Linked DNA regions of Homo sapiens. The protein of the gene in region 1 interacts with the protein of each later gene in a biochemical or structural test. Each region holds a gene or a part of one and is shown on either strand. Other genes may lie near its edges.

The links. The genes of interacting proteins can lie anywhere in the genome.
Region 2: the proteins of ARHGAP21 (region 1) and RSRC2 interact in a test that uses a peptide from one of them, tested with the Homo sapiens proteins (one large-scale study listed by IntAct).

The regions. Positions count from the first base shown.
Region 1 is NC_000010.11:24,721,664-24,725,412, forward strand, and holds the start of ARHGAP21 (rho GTPase-activating protein 21), read right to left. Parts: upstream 2,225-3,749; 5' UTR 1,899-2,224; intron 1,559-1,898; exon of another isoform or gene 1,494-1,558; intron 1,086-1,493; exon of another isoform or gene 823-1,085; intron 617-822; 5' UTR 237-616; coding exon 174-236; intron 1-173. UniProt on the Homo sapiens protein: Functions as a GTPase-activating protein (GAP) for RHOA and CDC42. Downstream partner of ARF1 which may control Golgi apparatus structure and function. Also required for CTNNA1 recruitment to adherens junctions.
Region 2 is NC_000012.12:122,509,835-122,513,483, forward strand, and holds part of RSRC2 (arginine/serine-rich coiled-coil protein 2), read right to left. Parts: intron 1,355-3,649; coding exon 1,275-1,354; intron 1-1,274.

The sequences.
Region 1 (3,749 bases):
AGACGTGGGCCAGGCTTCTCCTCGCTACTGGTTAAGCTGGGGCGCTCCCGCCAACAGGCTCAAAGCCCCGGGAAGCCCCTAGTGAGGCCCCGTGGCCGGTAACCCCCAACTTGCAGGACGCTCAAGACACAGGCCACCGCCCTGCCGGCCAGGAACGCTGGCTCCGCGCTTACCTCGCAGGCCTTGAGCTTGTCACCATCTCCCTCAGACAGACCAGTCCGACGCGTGGCCATCATTTCATTTCAAATGACAAAGAAGGGACAAATCCTTTGGAGTCCACATTGGACGTGGCGGGGAATGCCACCACACACCCGAAGGGGAAGAATTCCACAAGCAGGCTCCGAGGAGGGGCAGGGCTGTTGAAACAGACAACGTGCCAGGGAATAAAGGTTTTCAGGAAGCGCCTTCAAATGCCTCGCTGATTTCTCGTGACTTCAACTGACTTCGCCTTCTTCTTCCATTTCTGGAGACTTAAAAACAAAGGCGACAGGTCTTCTTGGCAGCCAGTGTCGAGGCCAATTGCAGAAAGCGGTCCCCTTCTTCCCAGTGCCACTCCTGAGTCCTGGAAAAATCCGAATGGGTCGTGAAGGTTCGAGTGTCAGCTCCTAGAGAGATCCTAGGAAAACGAGAAGTTAAAGGTCATGAACTTTCTCCAGGCGCCTATCACTGTCTTGCCCACATGTCCACACCAAGTTCGCGTTTCCTCCCGAGCAAAACAAACAAAAAAAAATTTTAACGTAAACAAACAAAAAGCCTATAAATTCGAGGGGGTGTTTAAAAAAGAGAAATCTCGAAACTGCCCAGCGGTTGCGTCAAACACACCTGGCTGTTATGCAGCCTTCAAGAAAAAATGTTCCCCATTCAAGTGCATTTTAATTCATGTCTTTCCTGGGTAGAGCAGAGGGCTGTGCATGTTGTTTTCTGCATCACCCAGACAGGGACACTTCGGTGAAGTTTTCTCCCCCACGAGGCTGAAATGGGATCACACTTTCCAAGCCCCCTCTTCGCTCCCCTCCGCCCCCCAAAAACGCAAGCACAAAGCCAGCCTGGCTGGGGCCGGCGTGGGCTCGGCGGCGTCTCCGGGTGACTCGGGCGCCGCCCCTCCGCCCCTCCGCCCCGGCCGGCGTCCCCGAGGAGGCGGCTGTTTTCCTTGGCCCGCGGCGGGGCTGGGTGGGGACGGCCGGGGAGGCGTGCGCGGCCGCGGGTGGGACGCCGGCGCCGCTCCCGCTCCAGGGCATGATTCTGGAGCTACACCCGAGCAACTCTGAAGTCGCGGCTTTTCCCCCAACTACCACTCGACACGGCTTCCCTTCCCCTGTGGCCACCTAGGGGGAAAAAACGAGAAAAAGCAAACCACCACCCACCTCCCCACGATTCCCCCGCCCCTTCCTGAGGCGGGTCGGGGACCTCGAGCTCCCGAGGAGAGCGGCCCCAATATGGACTTTCTCAAAGGTGCTAGGAGCCCCGGGGCGAGACAAAACCGGGGGCCTTACCCTTCCCGCCCGCTCGGGCCCGGCGGCCGAAGCGCGGCGGCGAGCTGAAGCGGAGACGCTGGCCGGGCGCCGGGCCCGGCCGGGACGCGCTAGGCCGCAGGCTCGGTTAATATTCATGAGCGGCCCCAGGCGCCCCTCCTCCAAGGCTGGCCGGCCGGACCCCAGCGCCCACCGCCGGCCTTTGTGCCCTTCCCTCCGCCCCGCCGCCCGCCCTTGCTCCGCACACGCGGGCGCGGCCCCTCCGCCCCCGCCGGGCGCCCGCCGCGGGCTCCCTCCGGCCCCGAGCCAGCGCCCGGCCGGGTGGCCTGTGGCGGGAAGGGAGAGAGCCCGCGGCAAGCCGGGCACTCCACGGCCCGCGAGCGCAGCGCCCTCTCGGCTGAGACGGAAAAGAAACCAGACACGCACCAGAGGAAGCGGGACGAGTGGATCCGCACGGGGCTGGCCGGCTCCGGGACAGCGCGCCCCGCCCGCCCGCCCGGCGTGAGCCGGACCCCGCAGCCGGACGATCCCGCGCTGCCCGCCGCCGCCGCCGCCGCCGCCGCCGCGCTCCGAGGCCGCCGCCCCCGGCCGGCCGCTCCCAGGCACCGCCGCGACCTGCCCCGGCCGGCCCCGGGCTCTCGGCCGCCGCAGGAGGGCGTGGGGCGGGGCGGCGGCCGCCGGACTCTCCCCTCGCCTCGCCGGGCCGGGCCGGGGCCCAGCTCCGGCGCCCGCGAACGCCAAGTGACAGAAGCGCCTCGCTCCGTGGCCGCGCGGAGCTGTTTCCCGGGGGCGGATTTCTCGCTTCTTCCTCCCTGGATCCACCTCCTCCCACTCCACCTCCTTCCCCTCCCCTCCCCAGGGGAGGCTCTGGGGCTGAATATTTTCTGTCTTGAATAACACGGGACCGGGGAACCGACGCTGGAGAAGGGGGATTAGCCGGAGGCCGGAGCGGGGTGCTCGCCTGCCCCCTCCCCGTGGGTCGCGGGACCTACAAGCCCTCGCCCCCCAGCACCCCAAAACCAGGCACACAACGCTCCCCGCCCCTGCAGTCTCCCAAGCGCTGAACGGCAGCGTCCAGGGATGGGCTTGCTCCCGGGAAAGGAGACCTGGTGGTAGACGTCTGGGGTGGAGAGGGGGACAAGCCTATAACAGCGACATCTGCAGACTCCAGGGATCAAAGGTCCTAGATTGGGGGACAGGGCTTGGCAAATTGTGCCCCCACCCCTTTTTTGCAGCGGGAAGGCAATGAAGCTGCGACGAGACGTGGGACTTCCAGATAAGGGAGTGTCCCCTCACGCCTCACAGCAAAAATCTCTTCCTGTGGTGGGAAGGGGGAAGTTAGCCAAGCGTTGCTCATTCAGTTCTTTCCCTTTTATAAATTCTGCAGAGCGGCTGAGCGAATTTGGCGCGGCTAGCGGAACTGTGGAGAGGCGGCTGCGCTTCTCTGTCCGCCACACTCCAGGTCACAGCGGCTCCGGAGCCGCGGCACAACCGCCACCCTCCCCACCCAATTCCCGGGCCTTGTCACAGACCCCGGCAGCTCGCTCCGCCCCGCCGTGCCTCACAACATCTCCCGCTGCAAATTACCCAATCGGGAGACGCGACGAGAGAACGCGAACCAATCAGGGGCTGGTAAATCAGGCTTCCCTCCGCCCTCTTCCCCGCCCCCGGGTGAAGGCCACCGCCCCCTCGGCCTCTCCTTCCCACCCCGCCCCGCTCCGGGGAGGTGGCTCCCCGGCTCCGAGCCTCGCGGGGCTGGAGGGGGAGTTGCTCGCAGTCAGAGGCAGCGTTTGTCACCTTGTCACCCTCATCCTCGCCCCCTCCCATACACACTCCCCTCCCCTTCTCGGTGCTCCTGCTGGTGCTGTTGAGGGTCATTTTTATCCTCACTGCGGCCGGGGACTGCCAGCTATTGTGTCTGATCAGCTGCCACCGCTGTCCAGAGGGAAAAAAAGAAGAACAAAACCTAGAAACTGTGGAGTCCTCTTACCTTTTCCTTCTTTCTTTCTACACTCTCCCCTGTAGACTTAGAAACATCCCTTCTCCTTCCCCGCCCGCCCACCACCTGAGGTCCTGTTTCTTTATGGGGGACAGGGGAGCGGGGACAAAAAACACTCCCTGCAGCTGGAGTACCTGCGCCTTAGTTTTTACATCTTCCTTAAAGTGGAAGGTGCCAAACCAAATCTACAACTAAATCCTCCGCTTCAATTCGAGGGAAGACGTTGACGAGATCATTTTTATATGGCCATGAAATTTGCGTGTTCTTGACAGCCTGTC
Region 2 (3,649 bases), on another chromosome or scaffold:
TTTTTGTTTTTTTCTTTTTCGTGAGACAGGGTCTCACTCTGTCACCCAGGCTAGAGTGCAATGGCGTGATGTTGGCTCACTGCAACCTCTACCTCCCGAGTTCAAGCCTCCTGAGTAGCTGGGACTATAGGCACACACAACCACGCCTGGCTAATTTTTGTATTTTTAGCAGAGATGGGGTTTTGCCATGTTGGCCAGGCTGGTCTTGAACTACTGACCTCAGGTGACCCACCTGCCTTGGCCTCCCAAAGTGCTGGGATTACAGAAGTGAGTCACTGAGCCAGGCCTGATAATTTTTGAAATCTGCAATGTTTGTTACGCATAAAAACTTGATTTCTTGAAAGAGAAATACATATTTCAGATCAGTTCACTTTCTTGCATAAACTACATTTCCAAAATCGTAAAAGACATCTGGGGCCGGGCGTGGTGGCTCATGCCTGTAATCCCAGCACTTCGGGAGGCCAAGAAGGACGATCACCAGGTCAAGAGATCGACACCATCCTGGTTCAACACGGTGAAACCCCGTCTCTACTAAAAATACAAAAATTAGCTAGATGTGGTGGTGCACACCTGTAGTCCCAGCTACAGGGGAGGCTGAGGCGGAGAATCGCTTAAATCCAAGAGGCAGAGGTTGCAGTAAGCTGAGATCACGCCACTGCACTCCAGCCTGGGCGATGGAGCGAGACTCCGTAACAACAACAACAAGATCTGTCATGATGACTAGTGTTACATAAACAAACATACTCATTACTAATTTATCAACAAAAATTATCCACATGGACCACATCAGAAACAAGCTACAAAACACTTAAGTGAGAACACTAAAATACACGTTTACAGTGTACTGATGGGAAGTAGGAATCATAGGTGATTTTCTTCCTATTATTTTCTATATTTTTCAATTTTTCTACAAAAAGCATGTCAAACTTAGGCTGGGTGCAGTGGCTCATGCCTGCAATCCCAGCACTTTGGGAGGCTGGGGCAGGAGGACTGCTTAAGCCCGAGATCAAGAATAGTCTTGGCAACATAGTGAAAGGTCCTCTCTACAAAAAATAAGAAAAAAATTAGCCATGCATGGTGATGTGGGACCTGCAGTCCCAGCTACTCGGTAGGCTGAGGTGGGAGGATCACTTGAGCCTGGGAGTTTGAGGCTACCATGCGCTATGCTGGAGCCACTGCACTCCAGTCAGAATGACAGAGCAAATCCCTGTGAAAAACAAAAAAGCTTGAAAGAGCTCAAATCGAGATGACTAAAAAAGAATGAAAAAAATTACCTGCAGCTATTTCTTGTTGTTTTTGTTTTTCAACCATTTCCTTTTCTCGCTGTTCTTGTAATTTCTTTGCCCTTTCCAACCTGCAAAATTAATTTCAATGAATTTAAAATAACACAATATAAAACCATTATGTATATATCTCTCTATATGTGCATGTACAGAGACAAGCCAACTTCCATAAAATTTTAAATTTTTAGCATCCCTCCACCGATAGCCGTATGTGAAGAAAAAGCAATCATTCTTAAGATGATATAAGCTACATTTGAAGAATACCACAACAGTGGTTTTAAACATTTTTGAATTGACTAGTCAGAAATGGGCATAGTTTTTATATGCAGTTCCAATTAACAAGTGAAAAAAATTACGTCTTGCAAGTAACATATTGAAAGCTGAGTAAATTTTAGAGCATGGTTAAGTAGTAAATAAATTTATAGAATTATCTAAATGTTTCTTGAGGGAGAAAAAGCCAGCCGATCAAGACATTCGGATAATTTTTTATATTGTACAGACCTTAGTAAAGTCTTCAATTTAATAAAAATCAAAAAGCCAAAACTAAAAGGTCAAGCAAACCTTGCCATTCTCTGTAATCTAATAAAATGGGAGGAAAACTTTTCTCAATTAGGAAATTACTTCTAGCAGTTGAACAAATTTATCATTTACAAAGGAACTAGTAACATGAAACACAAATTCATCCCAAAACAAAAATGAATTTTTTTTTGAGACAGTCTCACTCTGTTGCCCAGGCTGGAGTGCAATGGCACGACCTTGGCTCACTGCAACCTCCGCCTCCTGGGTTCAAGCGATTCTCCTGCCTCAGCCTCCTGTGTAGCCGGGATTACAGGTACACACCACCATGCCCAGCTAATGTTTGTATTTTTAGTAGAGATGGGGTTTCACCAATGTTGGTCAGCCTGGTCTCAAACTCCTGACCTTCTGATCCGCCCGCCTTGGCCTCCCGAAGTGCTGGCATTACAGGCGTGAGCCACCATGCCCAGCCCAAAAATGAATGCTTGTTCTCTCTACTCACTCTGTTGAATGAGTAGTGTGCATACATTAAATTCACTAATGAGTATGCACACTAAACAAGCTATATGTTAAGTTTACCCTTTCTATATAGCAAATAACAAGTAACATTATCTTCACAATGAATTCCTGAAAGAGGAACTCTTTTCTTCCTAAGGATTCCCTGATTTATCAATCAAGCCAAATGCCACTAACGCCCTCTGTAATGTGGTATAAAGGGGACAGGACTGACAAAACTTGTTTTTGTTTTGGGGCACTATGGGTAATACAATGCAGGGGTAGTAAATTGGATTTGCTTTAAGAATTGTTAAGTCGGCCCGGCGCCACGCCTCTCGCCTGTAATTCCAACACTATGGGAGGCTGAGGTGGGTGGATCACCTGAGGTCAGGAGTTAGAGTCCAGCTTGGTTATTAACATGGTGAAATCCCGCATCTACTAAAAATACAAAAAATTAGCAGGGCGTGGTGGTGGGCGCCTGTAATCTCAGCTACTTGGGGTGCTGAGGCAGGAGAATCGCTTGAACCCAGGAGGCAGGGGTTGCAGTAAGCTGAGATCACACCACTGCACTCCAGCCTAGGCAACAAGACTTCATCTCAAAAAAAAAAAAAGAGGAAAAGGAAAAAAAAAAATTGTTGAAATTTACATAAAAGAAATATAACAAGCTATAATTTTATTCCCTTTTATGAAGCACATATGCATGGAAGGCATAACATAGACTTGACTTTGTCCTTGAGAATAAAAGTTTGTAAATTAGCAGTAACAATAAAATGTAGGTCGCAGGCTTGGCAAGGTGGCTCATGCCTGTAATCCTAGCACTTTGGGAGGCCAAGGTGGGAAGACTGCTTGAGGCCAGCAGTTCGAGACCAGCTTGGCCAACATGGCAAAACCCGTCTCTATTAAAAAGAAAACAAAAATTAGCTGGGTGTGGTGATGCGCATCAGTAATCCCAGCTTCTTGGGAGGCTGAGGCACGAGAATTGCCTGAACCCAGAAGGCAGAGGTTGCAGTGAGCCAAGATCATGCTCCTGCACTCCAGCCTGGGCAACAGAGCAAGACTCCGTCTCAAAAATAAATAAATAAATAAATAAATAAATAAATAAATAAATAAATAAATAAAATAAAATAAAAATAAAAAATAAAAAAAGTAGGTCACAGATCTGAAATGTATTTCCTAAACAGTTTTAAATCCTGACCTTTAAGCCAAAAAAGAAACCAATATAAAAGGTCTATACATGGTAGTTTCTTAAGAAAAAAATTCTCCAGATTTCAAGGTAGTAAATAATCTCATATTCTGAAATTAAAGAACTACATTTAAAACTTTATCTGAAAGATCACCAAGTAATCTATATATCA